Homo sapiens: one gene and its partners. The protein of the gene in region 3 interacts with the protein of the main gene of each other region in a biochemical or structural test. Each region holds a gene or a part of one and is shown on either strand. Other genes may lie near its edges.

Region 1 (3,660 bases), on a different chromosome or scaffold from region 3:
GACTCCGTCTCAAAAAAAAAAAAAAAAAAAAAAAAAATCTGCTTTATACTACATAAAACTTCAAGGGTAAAGGCAATAAAACTGTGTAACTATATAAACACTGAAGAAATAGGTTCATAAAACAAAATGTAACCATGGGGAAGTATGTATGTTAAAGAACTATATGAAGCTAGAAAAATAAATAGGCCAGGCACAGTAGCTCACACCTATAATCCAGCACTTTGGGAGGCTGAGGTAGGTGAATCGCCTGAGCTCAGGAGTTCGAGACTACCCCGGCATGGTGGCATGTGCCTGTAGTGTAGTCCCAGCTACTTGGGAGGCTGAGGTGAGAGGATCGCTTGAGCTTGGGAGGTGAAGGTTGCAGTGAGCTGAGATGGCACCACTGCACTCCACCCTGTGTGACAGAGCGAGAACCCGTCTCCAAAAAAAAAAAAAAAGAAAGAAAAAAAAAAGAAAAGAAAAGAAAAGAAGAAAAGAAACAGGTAACAGTCACCCCTGGAAAGGATAATGAGATGACCGAAGAATAAGAGATAGAAGGAAGAAGTCTTTCACTACATTCCCTTTTGTACTATTCCCACTAATGCCTCCCTAGGTTAAGTAAGCAGTACTTACCAGAATTTTATCAGCTTTGGCTTCACTAATTCCCTTAATATTTATTAGCTCCTTCTTTGGCGCATAGGCAACAGCCTCCACAGTATGGAATCCAGCTTCTTCCAATTTCTTCACATCGTTGGCATTTATGCCACACTGCTGCAAATGAAGAAAACCATGGATAAATTTAAGCTTTAGTTCTCTAATCTAACACAGATGTTATGTGTCCTACATACTTCACAGAGGTGCTTGAAGACTTGTAATACAACTGTCCCTTGAAATCCTTGGGGGGGCGGGGGGAGATGGGAAGTTGGTTCCAGGACCCCCAGCAGATAACAAAATCCAACAATGCTCAAGTCCCTTATATAAAATGGCGTATTACCTGCATATAACCTATGTACATCCTCCTGTATACTTTTTTTTGATATGTAGTTGATTGAATTTTTGATACGTAGTTTGTTGAATTTGCTGATACAGAATCCGGAGATACAGAGAGCCTACTGTTATTATATGCAAAAGCTGAAAAATGAGCCCTATATATGAGGTACTTAATAACAAATTAACAACCTTTTCATTATCAAAATCAATAATTTTAAACTAGCACTAAGCCATGTACATTAAAAAGAACTCCTATTAGCAATTGGAATTAAAAAGTAACTCCCAACCTTTTTTTGTGACCCTAAATGATCTCTGAGACCTTGGGCCCTACAAGACCACTTTAAGACAGTGTTGCTCAACACTTTCCACATCAAGCACACATAAAAAACTGTATTTTTACACTATGGTAGGGTAAATAGATAAGGCTGCTCAGAATATAAAGAGCACTATCTTGGCCTGTCAATACTTTTTGTTGAACAATGACCAGAAAGCTCTGCTCTAACAACTGACATTAACAGTGAGGAAAACTACTTTTTGTCAGGGACTTTTATACCTCTTCTCAAAACAAACCACCCAAAGACACCTCTTTCTTCCTATATTCAAGTCAGCTTTGGTTTCATTAGCCACCAAAACCATGACTTCTGGGAAAACATGAGTTAGTAGGTGAATGTGGGTGCATTCAGGGGTTGGGAGAATTTAGAAGAGGGGAGAGATTAGTTTGCCAACATAAGCCATGTCTGCTATTAATATTTAAGCAATATGCATGTTTGAGTATAAGGATGCTCATGGCACCAGAAGTTATGACTCTGAACTTTCAAATGTTTATCACAAATCCATTTAAGTAACTTCTAGAGTCTTTTTTTTTTATTAGCCTTTTGCACTCCTAACTTCTAGAGTCTTGAAGATTAGTCAGAGATGGGAAATATGAAAAAAAGAGACAGAAGAATCAAGTCTTTCTCTGCTTTCCTCCTACTTAGCCCAAATCAGCTGCACTCACAGGGCAGTCTCTATACAATGGGCAGAAATAGTGTAAGGCCTCAGCTCTGGTGCTTAATGTTCTTGTGCAGAATCCTGAATTGGAGCTTGTCTCTTATACCATAACACCACCACACCCTTCTCTCTGCCAATGACAGCTGACAGCACAAATCTAGGTTAATGGAGAGAAGGTGCTTCCCTGTCTTCCTTGCATAACTGGTCCAGGCCGCTATAATTCCCAGAACAGCACTTTCATACTTAGTGCAAATAGCACAGGATGCTTTGGCCAGGCATGGTGGCTCATGCCTGTAATCCTAGCAGTTTGGGACGCCAAGGCAGGTGGACTGCTTGAGGCCAGGAGTTCAAGATCAACATGGTCAACACAGTTAAGACCCATTTCTTAAAAAACAAACAAAAAAACAGCACAGGCTGGGCGCAGTGGCCCATGCCTGTAATCCCAGCACTTTGGGAGGCCAAAGAGGGTGGATCACCTGAGGTCAGGAGTTCGAGACTAGCCTGACCAACATGGAGAAACCCTGTCTCTACTAAAAATATAAAATTAGCTGGGTGTGGTGGCTCATGCCTGTAATTCCAGCTACTTGGGAGGCTGAGGCAGGAGAATCGCTTGAACCTGGGACGCAGAGGTTGCGGTGAGCCGAGATCACGCCATTGCACTCCAGCCTGGGCAACAAGAGCGAAACTCCATCAAAAACAAACAAACAAACAAACAAAAACAGCACAGAGATTCCACCATGGGATCCTAGGCCTTAGTTTCTGACAGTCCAACTCTCAGAAATAAAAATGATAAAGTAGGAAGAGAATTGTTGACAAAGGAAGAGGCCCTGCCAGACATATTTAGCAATGATCTGCAGCCTTTCCACAGGATTATTGACAACACTTCTGAAAAGTCTAATTTGGGTCTTGACCTTGGTAGTAAACCTATATTTTATGTAAAGGTTGTAATACCTTCCACTAGGTAGAAGAATCTAGTATATAATTCCAAAATTAGCAACTAACCACATACCTCTAACCGTGAAATGGGTTGTGGGCCAAAGCTTTCTTCTTCCACTGAAGTATCTGCATTTGCTTCAAGCTGCATCTGCATTGCCATTACTGAAAAATACAAATGCTTATCAGTATAAACACTAGAGAAATAAGGTGCATCTCTCTCCCCATCTTCTATCTAGCTAGTCGTATCAAAAAGACTTTAGGAAAAGCCAAGGCCATTCTCTTATTGTGCCTCTCTGTTCTCCTGCTTTATATTCCTTCAGTGTAGGGGCCAAGTTTTACTTATTTTTATATACCCCATTATACATTATAAATGTGTTTGCAGACAAATACTGCATGATCTCACTCATATGTAGAATCTAAAAAAGTTGATCTTGGCGGGGCGCGGTGGCTCATGCCTGTGATCCCAGCACTTTGGGAGGCCGAGGCGGGCAGATCACCAGGTCAGGAGATCAAGACCATCCCGGCCAACATGCGAAACCCCGTCCCTACTAAAAATACAAATATTAGCAGGGTGTGGTGGCACACGCCTGTAGTCCCAGCTACTCGGGAGGCTGAGGCAGGTAAATGGCTTCAACCCGGAAGACAGAGATCGCAGTGAGCCGAGATCGTGCCACTGTACTCCAGCCTCATGACAGAGTGAGACTGTGTCTCAAAAAAAAAAACAAAAAAAAAAAAGTTCATCTCATACAAGGAACAAATAGAACA
Region 2 (2,668 bases), on a different chromosome or scaffold from region 3:
AGTACTTATGTACTTAATATTACGTCATATTTACTTCATATCTTATTTTTTATAGACAGGGTCTTGCTAAGTGGCCTAGGTTGGAGTGCAGTGGCTATTCACAGGCGTAAACATTGTGCACCACAGCCTTGAACTCCTGGGCTCAAAGGATCCTCCGTCCTCAGCCTCCCCAGTCTCTGGGACTACAGGTGTGCACCACTGCTCCTGGCCATATCTTATTTTTTAAAGGAAAGCCATTACAGATATAATTGAAACCACGTCTGCATCCCTTGCCAATACTGTTCCCTCTCTTCCTCTTTTACTCTCCAGAAGTAGTATCTTAAATTTGATTTTATCATTTTTCGCATGTTTCCTACTTTTTTTTTGAGACGGAGTTTTGCCCTTGTTGCCCAGGCTGGAGTGCAGTGGCGTGATCTTGGCTCACCGCAACCTCCACCTCCTGGGTTCAAACGATTCTCCTGCCTCAGCCTCCCAAGTAGCTGAGAGTACAGGCATGCGCCACCACACCTGGCTAATTTTTGTATTTTTAGTAGAGATGGGGTTTCTCCATGTTGGTCAGGCTGGTCTCAAACTCCTGACCTCAGGTGATCTGCCCACCTCGGCCTCCCAATATTTCCTACTTTTTATAGTATATGTAAAAATATAAGGTATTGTTTCATGTTTTTCATGTTTTTATATTTTTATATATTTTTTTGAAAAATTACATTAACAGCATAAAATTCAAAAGTTATACAGAAGAAACAATAAGAAGTAAATCTTTCGTCCTGTCCTGTGCCCCATCTAGTACCTTAAGACAATCAGTGATAGTAGTTTCTTGGCTGTACCTTCACAAATATTCTAGGTATTTATATTATTTATTTTCCCGTACACAACAACAGCATATTATAGACAACATTCTCTCCTGGCTTTTTTCACTTACTCTTTATCCATATTGATATATAGAGGACTGTCTCATTCTGCTTAACAGCTGCATAGTATTGTGTTTTATGGATATATCATACTTTGTTTAATTTCTATTCTGGTAATAGTCATTTGGGTTGATTACCATCTTTACGCTATGATAACCAAGTATTTCAGTACTTATCTATGTATTCATTACATTGTGTCATAACGAGACCAGTTTATTTGTAGGATATATAATGAGGAGTGGAATTCCTGGGTTAAGGGCATGCATATTTGTAATTTTGACAAACACAAAATTACATAGAGAGGGCTGTACCAACTTATATGTCTACCAGCAATCTGTGCCTGTGTCACGTTTCCTCTTACTCTGGCCATTCCAGTGTTAGCAACTTTTAAAATTTGCGAATCTGATTTTTAAAAATGACATCGTTTTAATTTATGCTTTATCAGTGAGATCAAGCATCTTTTCACATTTGTGTGTCTGTGTGTGAGCTGTCTGGTCATATCCTTTACACACTAATGTATCAAATTACTGGCCTTAAAAAACTGTAGGAATTCTGGGACAAGAATATTAGCCCTTTTTTTGATATGAACTGCAAATATTTTCCCAGTTTTATATTTGTATTGACTATTTGTGTATGTGTGTAATTTGACACTCAGATTTTAAAAATGTTGCTAAATTTGTCAGTCTTTTAAAATAACTCCTGGATTCTCAGTTCTTAGAAAGTTCTTCCTCACTCATAAATCATTAAAAACACATTGCTGTGTTTTTTCCCTCATATTTATGGTTTTTTTTTCAGACAAGTTTTTATTCCATGAGCAACTTATTTTGGTGCAGGTAACGAAGTAGGAATCCAACATTGTTTCCAAATTACCACTCATTCGCTCTTAAGTAATCTATCTTTACTTGCTTGAAAACACAACTTTATCATATTCTAGAATTCTGATATCTTTAAATTGACAAAAACTGTATGTATTTTGTACAATGTGATGTTTTGATATATGTACACATTGCGAAATTGATTACCACAATCAAGCTAGTTACATCCATCACCTCACATATTCATTTCTCCTGGTGAGATCTACTCCTAGCAATTTTCAAGTATACATTAACTAGTCACCCTGCTGCACAACAGGTCTCCGGAACGTACTACTCCTGTTTAACTGAAACTTTGTACCCTTGACCAACATCTCCCCATTTATCCCCTCCCTCCAGTCCATGAAACCACCTTTCTACACTCTGCTTGTGAGTTCAATTTTGTGATTCCATATCCAAGTGAGATCATGGCTTATTTCACTAGCATAGTGTCCTCCAGGTCCATCCATGTTGTTGTAAATCAGTTATTTCCTTCTTTTAAGGTTAATAATATTCCATTGTGTAGATGTACCTTTTTTTTTTTTGAGATGAAGTCTCACTCTTCTCACTCTTGTCGCTCAGGCTGGACTGCAGTGGCGGAATCTCAGCTCACTGAAATCTCCACTTCCTGGGTTCAAGCCATTCTCACTTCAGCCCGAGTAGGTGGGATTACAGGCGCCCTCCAAGATGCCTGGCTAATTTTTGTATCTTTTGTAGAGACGGGGTTTCATCATGTTGGCCAGGCTGGTCAAGAACTTCTGACCTCAAATGATCCACCTGCCTTGGCCTCCCAAAGTGCTGGGATTACAGGCGTGGGCCACCGCGCTCAGCCCTATCTATCTTCTGTTGATGGACACTTAGGTTGATGTCTTGGCGATTGTGAACAATGCTTCAGTGAACGTGGAAGTA
Region 3 (3,660 bases):
TAAGTACTTGCTTTATGAATCTGGGTGCTCCTGTATTGGGTGCATATATATTTAGGATAGTTAGCTCTTCTTGTTGAATTGATCCCTTTACCATTATGTAATGGCCTTCTTTGTCTCTTTTGATCTTTGTTGTGAATCCAGGAGCTGGTTTTTTGAAAAGATAAACAAAATTGATAGACCACTAGCAAGACTAATAAAGAAGAAAAGAGAGAAGAATCAAATAGATGCAATAAAAAATGATAAAGGGGATATCACCACTGATCCCACAGAAATACAAACTACCATCAGAGAATACTATAAACACCTCTATGCAAATAAACTAGAAAATCTAGAAGAAATGGATAAATTCCTGGAGACATACACCCTCCCAAGACTAAACCAGGAAGAAGTTGAATCTCTGAATAGACCAATAACAGGCTCTGAAATTGAGGCAATAATTAATAGCTTACCAACCAAAAAATGTCCAGGACCAGATGGATTCACAGCCAAATTCTACCAGAGATACAAGGAGGAGCTGGTACCATTCCTTCTGAAACTATTCCAATCAACAGAAAAAGAGGGAATCCTCCCTAACTCATTTTATGAGGATATATTTTGAACAAGCTCCCATATATGCTATTGGTCAATGAACTACACTTTAACAAGGATGAATAGAATCTCCTTGCACTTTATGACTTCTTTTATAGATCAGTTACAATATTCACACTAATATAAAGTTTTCTAGTCTATTTATTCCATCCATAATAGCAAGATATTAATAATATATCCTTAAGGGTGGAGGGGCTTTTATATTGTTAAAATAAATATTTACTATAATGATCTTGTTCTGATGACAAGTACAAGACAATTTCATAATTCCTAGGTGATTTATAAAGAAATGAGCTATTCTAAAGAATGCTGGTCAGTCAAGGTGGCGCATGCCTGTATTCCCAGCACTTTGGGAGGCAGAGGCAGGTGGATCACTTGAGGTTAGGAGTTCAAGACCAGCCTGGCCAACATGGTGAAACCCCATCTCTACTGAAAAAAAAATACAAAAATTAGCCAGGTATAGTGGCAGGCACCTGTAATCCCAGCTTCTCAGGAGGCTGAGCCATAAGAATCACTTGAACCCGGGAGGCGGAGGTTGCAGTGAGCCGAGATTGCGCCACTGCACTCCAGCCTGGGCTACAAAGTGAGACTCTGTCTAAAACAAACAAAAACAAAGAAACAAAAAAATTCATTTAGTTGGACTATTTATTAGACAACTTCATATAATACATGTAAAAAATCTGATTCATTTTAATATTTAACAAATACTTTTTGAGCCCTTATGGTATTCAAAACTCTATGCTAAACACTGGGCATATAAGACGGACATGATTCCTGTCTTCACAGACCTTACAGCCTAATGGCGATTGCCAATAACTTTTTATTTATTTATTTATTTAGACAGAGTCTTGCTCTGTTGCGCAGGCTGGAGTACAGCAGCACTATCTAGGCTCACTGCTACCTCTGCCTCCAGGGTTCAAGTGATTCTCATGCCTCAGCCTCCTGAGTAGCTGGGATTACAGGTGTGCCACTATGCTGGCTAAATTTTGTATTTTTGGTAAAGACAGGGTTTCACCATGGCGACCAGGCTGGTCTCAAACTCCTGGCCTCAAGTGATCCACCCACGTTGGCCTGCCCAGGGTGCTGGGATTACAGGCATGAGCCACCGCACTTAGCCATTGACAATAACTTTTGTCAGTTTACTGGCCGTGACTGAAGACAAGACAAAGAGCGAGGGGAAATAAACAATAAAAACAATAAACACATAATCATATCAAGAAAATAATTTTAGGTACAGAAACAGCTAAAAAAAACAAAAACAGGCCGGGCACGGTGGCTTACACCCGTAATCCCAGCACTTTAGGAGGCCGAGGCGGGTGGATCATGAGGTCAGGAGATCGAGACCGTCCTGGCTAACACAGTGAGACCCCGTCCCTACTAAAAATACAAAAAAAAAATTAGCTGGGCATGGTGGTGGGTGCCTGTAGTCCCAGCTACTTGGGAGGCTGAGGCAGGAGAATGGCGTGAACCCTGGAGGCAGAGCTTGCAGTGAGCCAAGATTGCACCACTGCACTCCAGCCTGGTCAACAGAGTGAGACTCCATCTCAAAACAAAAAACAAACAAACAAAAAAAACGGAATATACAGAGAAGGACCAGGGTGGTTGCTTTAGTTAGGTTGATTAAGAAAGACTTCCCTATGAATTTGATAGTAGAGTTGAGAACTGAATGATTAAAAAAGAAGGCAGCAATGCAAAGATGACGATGGGATGGGAATCATGACAACAATAATGAGGACAGCTAACATAAAATGATACTTAGTATGTACCCACAATTGTTCTAAGCATTTTAAAAGTATTAACTTGTTTAATTCTAATAACCATGTTATGAGATAGGCACTATTATTGGCCACATCATTTTACAACAGAAGTAACTTAAGAACAAGGAAATTAGGTAACTTGTCCAAGATTTCCAAGTAAGTAGCATAGCAGCAATTTAAGCCCAGGAAGTCTGGCTCCAGAACAAAAAAGAAGATCAAGGTTAGTGGAGCTTTGCAAGTGGGGGTAAGAATAGAGAGAGATGAATGAAGAAGTTGATAGAGGCCAGGACATAGAAGTCCTTATAGGCCAAAGAGTCTGGATTCTATTGTAAATGTAAGGAGAGCCACTGGAAGGTTTTCAGCAGAAGAGTTACAAGATCTGATTTCTGGATTAAAAGGATATCACAGTATGACTACTATTAATATGTTGAGAATAAACTATAGGAAGGTAAGAAGAGGGCAGAAAGAAAAGCTAGGAGGCTATTATAGTAGTCTATGCTAAAGATGATAGAGGTTTGGGTTAGGGTAGTAGCCTTGGAAATGGTGACAAGTGATCCAGAACTGGTATATACTCTGAAGGCTAGATCAAGAGGATTTTCTGATGGATCAAATCTGAGGTGTGAAAGGAGAGGAAACAAGAATGACTTTTAAGATTTAGTCATCATTCTACCAGATTTCTGTCATACCCATTTAAACTAATTTGTAGGGAACTACTCATATCAACTGGCTAGGGGGAGGGGGGGTGTCTCCCATCACATGTACATTTTTTTTTTTTGAGAACTTATTTCTAAAAGGAGGTAAGGGGCACACATAAACCTCCCATTTGTTATAGAAATCAATGGATGTAATACTGCACTGAACAGGCAGCAAGCCTATGGAAGCATTGGAGCTATTCAGATAGTTCAGTACGTAGAATATCCATCTTTTAACCTGAGGATTCTTTCATTTAAGTCTGTGAAAAGACTTTTCAATTGTTCCTTTCAACTATAATACTAACTCCTGGAGATCAGATATTCTATCATTTAAGTATCTGTATCCCTAATATATAGCAGGAAGTCAAACAATGTTTGACAATGATAAAGTGTGAAACATGACAAGGTAAAACTGAATATAAAACACTTTGTAATAACTACCAGGCTTGGTCATTGACTTTCTATGCCATGATAACATAGGATATCATAGAAAGTCAAAGACAGAGTAATTTTAACCTATAACCTAATGGATGTGAAGTGGTATCTAACTGCGGTTTTGATTTGTAGTTCCCTAATGACTAGTAAAGTTGAGCATCTTTTCTGGTACTTACTGGCCATTTGTT

What was found.
Region 1: the proteins of MSH4 (region 3) and RAD51 form a complex in vitro, tested with the Homo sapiens proteins (one study listed by BioGRID).
Region 2: the proteins of MSH4 (region 3) and EIF3F form a complex in vitro, tested with the Homo sapiens proteins (one study listed by BioGRID).

Annotation. Positions count from the first base shown.
Region 1 is NC_000015.10:40,698,154-40,701,813, reverse strand, and holds part of RAD51 (DNA repair protein RAD51 homolog 1), read right to left. Parts: intron 3,058-3,660; coding exon of another isoform or gene 3,056-3,057; coding exon 2,969-3,055; intron 751-2,968; coding exon 613-750; intron 9-612; coding exon of another isoform or gene 1-8.
Region 2 is NC_000011.10:7,999,845-8,002,512, reverse strand, and holds the end of EIF3F (eukaryotic translation initiation factor 3 subunit F), read right to left. Parts: 3' UTR 661-2,668; downstream 1-660. UniProt on the Homo sapiens protein: Component of the eukaryotic translation initiation factor 3 (eIF-3) complex, which is required for several steps in the initiation of protein synthesis.
Region 3 is NC_000001.11:75,817,255-75,820,914, reverse strand, and holds part of MSH4 (mutS protein homolog 4), read right to left. Parts: intron 1-3,660. UniProt on the Homo sapiens protein: Involved in meiotic recombination. Required for reciprocal recombination and proper segregation of homologous chromosomes at meiosis.